Linked DNA regions of Homo sapiens. The protein of the gene in region 1 interacts with the protein of each later gene in a pairwise test. Each region holds a gene or a part of one and is shown in the gene's direction. Other genes may lie near its edges.

The links. Proteins that work in one complex are often made in the same cells at the same time.
Region 2: the proteins of ZNF496 (region 1) and ARR3 interact in binary tests that used the Homo sapiens proteins (3 or more experiments, as listed by UniProt).

The regions. Positions count from the first base shown.
Region 1 is NC_000001.11:247,296,884-247,300,880, reverse strand, and holds the end of ZNF496 (zinc finger protein 496), read left to right. Parts: coding exon 1-362; 3' UTR 363-3,466; downstream 3,467-3,997. UniProt on the Homo sapiens protein: DNA-binding transcription factor that can both act as an activator and a repressor.
Region 2 is NC_000023.11:70,278,290-70,282,340, forward strand, and holds the end of ARR3 (arrestin-C), read left to right. Parts: intron 1-214; coding exon 215-352; intron 353-1,905; coding exon 1,906-1,989; intron 1,990-2,269; coding exon 2,270-2,293; intron 2,294-2,476; coding exon 2,477-2,529; intron 2,530-2,809; coding exon 2,810-2,819; intron 2,820-3,386; coding exon 3,387-3,477; 3' UTR 3,478-3,551; downstream 3,552-4,051. Other genes in the region: RAB41 (ras-related protein Rab-41), read left to right, coding at 3,929-4,051. UniProt on the Homo sapiens protein: May play a role in an as yet undefined retina-specific signal transduction. Could bind to photoactivated-phosphorylated red/green opsins.

The DNA.
Region 1 (3,997 bases):
GCGGGAAGAGCTTCCGCCTGAACTCCCACCTGCTCTCCCACCGGCGGATACACCTGCAGCCGGACAGACTCCAGCCGGTGGAGAAGAGAGAGCAGGCGGCATCCGAGGACGCGGACAAGGGTCCCAAAGAGCCGCTGGAAAACGGCAAGGCCAAACTGAGCTTCCAGTGCTGTGAGTGTGGGAAGGCCTTCCAGCGGCACGACCACCTGGCTCGGCACCGCAGCCACTTTCACCTGAAGGACAAAGCCCGGCCCTTCCAGTGCCGGTACTGCGTCAAGAGCTTCACGCAGAACTATGACCTCCTCCGCCACGAGCGCCTGCACATGAAGCGCCGTTCCAAGCAGGCTCTGAACTCCTACTGAGCCTCTCCGCCTGGGGCGGCCTCACCCTGGCTGGTGCTGCCCCCTCACCTTGGTACTGATCAGCGCCCCCACCCAGGACATACCTTCCCCAGGATAGAGAGCACACCTCCCTCCTGTCCTTGCTCTCAGGTAGTGAGCGTTCGGGTGGTGCCATGGGAGCACTCTCCCTCCCCCAGGTAATGAAAGAGTGGCCAAGTGAGTGTTCTGTTTCTGCTGTGCCAAAAAACGGGGGGGATGTGCCATCACCAGGTTGGACATGCCAGGTGTTCTGCGTCTTAGAGACCCTTGGCCCATGCTCCCCAAGCTCGGGGAGTAAAACTGGGCTATCCCCCGTCAGGGCGGCACCCTGGTCACCAGCCAAACCTCAGTATACTCCCTCCCCTCCTTCCCTGTCTGAACGCTAGGATCTGCTCCTGAAGCTCCAGGATGCCTGCACTTCCACTGAGAAGCTGCTGGCGGATGTTGGACTAGAGGAAAGAAGAAGGCAGGGTGGGACTGATGGGCTCAGTGGGGAGCAGGGCCAGGCACACTGAGCCAGACATGTCATGTCTGAGCCCCAGATTCGTGGCCATCAGGTAGGCAGGAGCACCCCGCAGATCCAAGATGATCAGGCAGCCCTTTTGGGCTGGCCTCTGTGGCAGGGGTCTGCAGAGCTCCTTCTTGAGGTTTGGAAACAGTCGTCATACCTGTTGATTTTCCTGGGGGCCAATCACTAGGGATCTGGAGCTCACCAAAAACAAAGCTTACATTTTAATTTGTGTTGCACACCTACCCCATAATGTCTTTATACCCCAAAGATCCTTGGTAAATGCTTGTGGGTTGGAAGCGGAGTTGTCATCGTTTAAAAGGCACTTAAGTCCCTTCTTCCAATCTGTCCTGTCTAGGAATGTGGAGCTCTGCCCCCAGTGAGGGGTTCTCCTGTCTGGGTGAGCCAAGCTCCAGAACAGAACCTTGCCTGACAACACACTTGATAGATACATTAGCTTGGAGTGCTGGTGTGTCCAAACACTGGCTGGCTTAGAACAACAGGAGTGTATTCCCTGACAGTTCTGGGAGGTGCACGTCCAAGATCAGGGTGTCCTCAGAGTTGGTGCCTTCCGAGAGCTGTGAGGGAGAAGCGGCTTCATGCCTTTGCTGGCAGTTGCCATTCCTTGGTGTGTGGAAGCGTCACCCAGTCTCTGCCTTCATCTCCACATGGCACTCTTGCTGTGTGCGTGTCTGTCTCCAAACCTCCCTTTGTTTAAGGACACCAGTCATATCGGATTAGAGCCCATCCCACCGACTCCAGTATAACCTCATCTGTATCCGCAGCAACCGTTTACCAATAAGGTCACATTCTGAGGTACTAGAGGTTGGGACTTCAACATCGGAATTTGAAAGGGACAGCATTCAGCCCATGACTCCAGATAAACGTGAGGTATGCTATATCATTCCTAATTTACAGATGAGTCAATACAAACTTGAGTGAGCTTGCTCACAATTCCATCAAAGGCAGGGTTCAGACCCAAGTTTCAGCATTTAGGGCAGGTGTCCTCTGCATGGAAGAATCATACTCAATAGCCGTAAACGCTGACAAATTCCCCTTCCTCCCTGCCTTCTGATGGGGGCTGGGCAGGCCAGCTGGAGCTGTGTCTCCTGCTGGGATTCCGGACTGAGAGTGACAGCAGGTAGTGAAACCTCAAGCAATTTAAAACATGGTATTGTTCCTGGAAGACTGGTTATGTTGGCTAGGGTCAGCAAGAGAGGGCATCAAGGCTGTAGTCTAGCAGTGATTTAATCTGCAAGTCAAACCAGACGGGTATTTTGTATTATTCATATGTCACATCCTACCAACAGACAGTAAGTCAGGCAAGGCTCCTGGTGCTCCTTGTCACTCACGTAATTTTCACATCAGGAAAACTCTGGGCTGGGTGCAGTGGCTCACACCTGTAATCCTAGCACTTTGGGAAACCAAGGTGGGTGGATTGCCTAGCTCAGTGACACCAGCCTGGGCCACATGGCAAAACCCCGTCTGTACCAAAAATGCAAAAAATTAGCTGGGTGTGGTGTTGACGTTTGCGGTCCCAGCTACTCTGGAGGCTGAGGTGGGAGGATTGCTTGAGTCTGGGAGGCAGAAGTTGCAGTAAGCCGAGATCATGCCACTGCACAAGCTAGGTGACAGAATGAGACTCTGTCTCAAAAATAATTAAAAAGCCTCTGCCCCAAACTCGTTAAAAGATTTTATAACCACAACTGCTGTTTCTGTGTAGATGCATCTGCATGCCCAGGAGCAGTAAATGCAATAAAATCATTTGGTTATACTTTGAACACAAAATAAACGGTTGAGGCTTTTACTTTCTAAATAGTTTGTCTCTTGTATCAACATAGCTGGAAAAGGGAGAAATCCGATTTTTAAGGCCAAGGGAGGGGAAAATTCCAAGTAGAAGCCAGGCTCTCTGTACACGTTTACCCCACCTACCTGTGTGCTCCTACCTGTGCTGAGGATTCTCTCTGTAGCTCTAAGGTCTTGGGAAGGTTATTCACCTTCCTGCTTCAGACGTCTGACTCAAGAGAAGAACACTGTTCTACTTACCAGAGTGTTTTTCTGTGTAAAACCACATCATGAAGGAGAAAGCGACAAAGGGAATGTGAGGGGCTGGAAGCCACAGGGAGGCTGTCTCTTGAGTCCCCACCACTGATCCAGAGCCAACCAAGGCACCTCAGGAAATGGAAGGCCACATTGCCTCTGGATTTGGAAATCCTCCTGGGTAATGTAACTGAAACCCAGGTTGATGCCATGCAGCAGGAGCAGCAGGGGGAACGTGCTCTCAGGAGAGGTCGGCCAACCCTCCAGCCCAACACCCTTCACCACAGTGGTGGAGGAGGCTGCACCCAGGAGATCTTTGTCTCCCTTTTGGCCACTGATACCTTTGGCCTTATCTGACAACAGCTACCCCTCGATCCTTCCCTCCCACCCCAGGGGCTGGGCAGCTGGCTGGAGCTTTGTGTCCACCTTGCTCTGGAGGTTGAGACCCCCATCTGAGCAACATCCTCTCTCTTTGTTCCTCTGATCCCTTGGCATCGTCACAAACCCACAGGTGCATAATAAAAACTTGCTGAGTCAATATTCCTGTTAGGCTTTTCATTTTCATTTAAAAAGTAAAATGTGGCTGGGCGTGGCAGCTCATTCCTGTAATCCCAGCACTTTGGGAGGCCGAGGCAGAAGGATTGCTTGAGGTCAGGAGTTTGAGACCAGCCTGAGCAATATAGTGAGACCCCATCTCTAAGAAAAAAATAGAACAATTAGCCTGCCATGGTGGCACATGCCTGTAGCTATTTTGGGGGCTGAGGTGGGGGAAGATCCCTTGAACCCAGGAGACAGAGGTTGCTGTGAACGGTGGAGGTTGCTATGAACGGTGGAGCGCCACTGCACTCCAGCCTGGGTGACAGAGCAAGACTTCATCTCAAAAAACAAAAAGTAAAATGTGAAGCACAGCCAAAACATGTTTTCTAAGACCTGCAGGCTTTAGATAGTTCTGGTCACCTGATCTGGCCCCTCCCCAAAAGAAAGAAGAAGAAATAACTGTTTCATACGCTGGGAGTAGATTGTACTCCTGGTCACACCACAGCTTTAAGCCAACCTTAGTCGTTTTTCT
Region 2 (4,051 bases), on another chromosome or scaffold:
TTACCCCCAGGAGTCCCATCACGATGCTGAGCGAGGGCAGGGGCATAAGGATTTCCCACCAGAACTAATTTCTCCCAGTCTTCAGTTAAACATGTTACCTCTCTTGGATACTCCAGTAGGTTCTTGTATAATCTTGTACAAGATACTCTTGGGAGTAAAAGTATGCTTAGTCAGCAAGCCCAGCCTAAATTCTTCTCTTGTTCTTCTTTTGTAGGGAGACTGTAGCTGCTAATTCCAGCTTCTCCCAGAGCTTTGCAGTAACCCCAATCCTGGCTGCCAGCTGCCAGAAACGGGGCCTGGCACTGGATGGCAAACTTAAGCATGAAGATACCAACCTGGCCTCTAGCACAATGTAAGCTCAAATATAACTCTCAGCCTCCATTTCCTACCCCTCAACCATTCCACATGCTACATTTACAGCTCTGAGGTTTCATGTTCAGTAAAGCCTACCTGTTTTTTAAAGTGTCTCTAGGGCAGTGTTCAGAGACTCCTCCAGGCCTAAAGGCCTGCAGCAAGCTCAATAATGCCTGTGGGACCAACGGCAGGCTTAGGTCAGCGGCAGAAAAAAAGGAAAACATGGAGAGGAAAACAATCCTTATGTTGTATAAGATTTCACAGTTCACAAAGGTCCGACATATGTACTATGCTATCTTTGTGAGAATCCCACTAAAGTAGCCTGGACAGGTGTTCTTATTCCCTTTTACACTTAAGGACCCTGAGGCTCAGAGAGAAGAAGGAACTCACTTAAAGTGGCATAGCTGATAAGTGGTAGATGTAGACAGGATTATATCACATGTCATCTGGCTCTGAATACTGTGATCTCTACAGAAGCTACTCTCTAGAAAAAATAAAGATGGAGTAGAAGACTAGGAGATGAGAAATGGAGGAAAAGGAGGACAAAAAAGGAAAATGATGCAACAGGAATTAATAGAATTCTAGGAAGTCATTCACTTGGTCCTGTGCCTTCGGAGGCCCTAGTGTTAGATGTGTCTTCCACCAAAAACCACCTGCCACCATCTGTCAAGTGTAATCCCTCCATCTCTCCATACGTCTTTTCAATCAAGTAGCTATAGACTGTTATTGCTAGAAATACCCTTAGAAATCATCCAAACTGCATTATTTTATATGTAAGAGATCAGCAGCCCAGAGCAATGAAGAGATTTTCTCAAGCTCATGCAGCTTTCGCTGTCTTATTTTTCAATCAGTGGGTTTTTTACTGAACCCCTATTACATGCTCTTTCCTATGCTAAGCAATGTGGAGAATATAAAGAAGTTTAAGACAGTCTCTGCCTTCAGTCAATTTATGGCCTAGATGAGGAACGAAGAGAGATGCAAATACAACCCAACAGTTAAATGTTAGTACACGTGGTTCAGAGTAAATCGCAACAAAGTTAAAAGAAGCCAGGAGAGCTGGTGAGGGCTTCCTGGAGGAGGTAGAATGAGCTAGATCTTGAAGAATGTGAAGGATCTGGATACCAACAGAGGAAAAAAAGGAGCACTGTAGACTAGGGACACAGCATGGGCAAAGGCTAGAAGGTGGGAATCCACATGGCATGTTCTGATCACGGAGAGAAGATGGGTCTGCTTAGGTTGTATCCCAGGAGTTAGGGGAGAAAAGGTTAGAGAGGCTAGATAGGGCAAGGTTGTTAGGGGTCTTGAAAGTCAGGCAGAGTAGTTGTTATATTCAAAAGGTAGGCTCTTGAGCAGAGAGTGACATGGTAAAAGTGAATGTCAGGAAGAGAAATGTGGTCTCAACGGGTAGGAAAGGTTAGAGCCTGGGAGATATTCTGGGATAAGACTAAACATAATAGGGTGTGGTGATAGGAATGCATGAGAAGAAACTGGGGACAGAATGAATTACTCTTCATGCCCCAAACACCCTAAAACGAATACTACAACCTCCAGTATTAGACCGGGAATGGACAAAGAGCTGCTGGGGATCCTGGTGTCCTACAAAGTCAGAGTCAACCTGATGGTGTCCTGTGGTGGGTAAGTGAGGGTTCTGGGTCTGTCTGGGCAGGGGCTGAAGAGTCAAGGGCTTTTCGCCTCTGTTTTTCTCCCAGTTAGATTGACCCAATCAAACCATTCCCCACCCTTTCTCCCAGACCAGGTTCCCAAACCTGTGAGCTCAGTGAGCAAGTCACTTTCCCTTCCAGAAACCCATTCTGTGGCTGGCTCATTAGGTCTTATGATCCCTCATCCCCTTGTGAAACTAGGTTGCCCCTTCTCTATTTCCCGCTGCTAATTTTGGGTGTCATTCTACCCACAGCATCCTAGGAGACCTGACAGCCAGGTGAGAGACTGTGGGGTGGGGGAACTTGGGCAAGAAGAGGAGGACAAGGGGATAAGGAGAGCAAAATAATGATTGATTCTGGAGGGTCTGAGGGCATCCAAAGACTGGAAAACTAAGGGAGGGAGGTTCAGGGATTGGGCTTGTAGAGAGAGGAGATGTAACTCCACCTTGGGATCCTTGCAGCGATGTTGGTGTGGAGCTACCCTTGGTCCTGATCCATCCGAAGCCATCTCATGGTGAGTGACCAGGTGGAACTCACAGGGACGGCTGTCCTGAGGGCTGGGGTCCAAACCATTCTGATCTCATGAATTGGAGACTAGCAGTTTGCCTGGGGATGGAATAGCAATAGGTAGGCTGGGTGTCTAGGTATTCAGGGGAAGTGTGTGTGTCGTGTGTGCTGGAGCAAAGGATTGGGAAGTTGGGGGGGGGGGAAGTAAAGATACTTCTTCAGGGAACCGAAGAGCCTCTAATCAGCTTCAGCTCCATTTTTTCCCTCCGTCTCCATGCTTGCTACAGAGGCCGCTAGGTAATGGAATACAAGATTGGGAAGCCCCATTCCCCTCTTCCCATTTCCACCCTCCATGTTATGACGATAGAAATGTGAAAATGCTTCCTTGGGGTGCTTTCAATACATGTGCAGTGGAAACATATGGCTTAGCTTCGTGTCACAGTTCGGTGCTTTTCATATGCCCTCCTTTCCCTTTCTGCATCCCCCCGCCCTCCACCTTCTGCTCTTGTTGGAATCATCCTTCCCCCTCATCCCCTTCCCATTTTTCTTTTTCCTTTTCCCCCACCCGCTCGCCCTTACTTCTTTCGTCTTTCATTCTTTGATACCTTCCCTCCTTCCCATCCCTCATCCTTATGTCCCTTTCAGTGCTCCTGGGGGACTTTTGTGCTGGGAAATTTGGGCGGGAATGAAAGGAAACAAGCCAGAGTGGCTGATGGAAAAGTGGGGACACCAAGAGGGGGCCGAGGAGCCTACCTGGGAAGCAGGGAGGGGATCACTTTTCTGGGATCAGGAAAAAAGAGTGGACACGGAGGACACCCAGAAAGGGGTTCCTAACCTTCCATTCTCTTCTGCTGCTTCTGCAAGCTCTGAGGACATAGTCATCGAGGAGTTTACGCGGAAAGGCGAGGAGGAGAGCCAGAAGGCTGTGGAGGCTGAGGGAGATGAGGGGAGCTGAGCACCTCGCTCTGGTGCCCGTCTGTGTGGGAGCCCCCACTGTAACACTCTAATAAATCAGTTTGTTCAGATGTGCCTAGCGATCTCTTGCCTATTTCCTCTTCCTGGAGGGTCACGGAACTACTGAGAACAATCTTCCCCACCTCCACCCCTTTGCTGTGATTACACTACACTTAGCCCGTGCTTTTCCCCATACGCTGACCCCAACTTCCCTCTGACACGGTCAGTGGCCATCCCTCTCTCCACCCCATGACCCCACTCGAGTGGTCATAGGATTGCGCTGAACACCAGGCGCAGTGCAAGCTGCCAGGAGGGGGCCGAGGGGGCGTGGCCATGCCCAGGCCTGGGTGTGAAGCCAATGGCCGTCAGCCGACGTCAGTAGAGCATGGCGTGAAGTCCGGCGGCTCAGGCTGAGCGTTGGAAGCCATTTTGGCTGCAACCTACCTGAAGCGATGTCTGCCTTTGGTCACGACGAGGCCTGGATGGAGGCCGGAGGCTTTGGTCTGGAGGCTGCCGAAAGAACGGAATACCAGTCTCTGTGCAAATCTAAACTCTTATTCCTGGGAGAGCAGAGC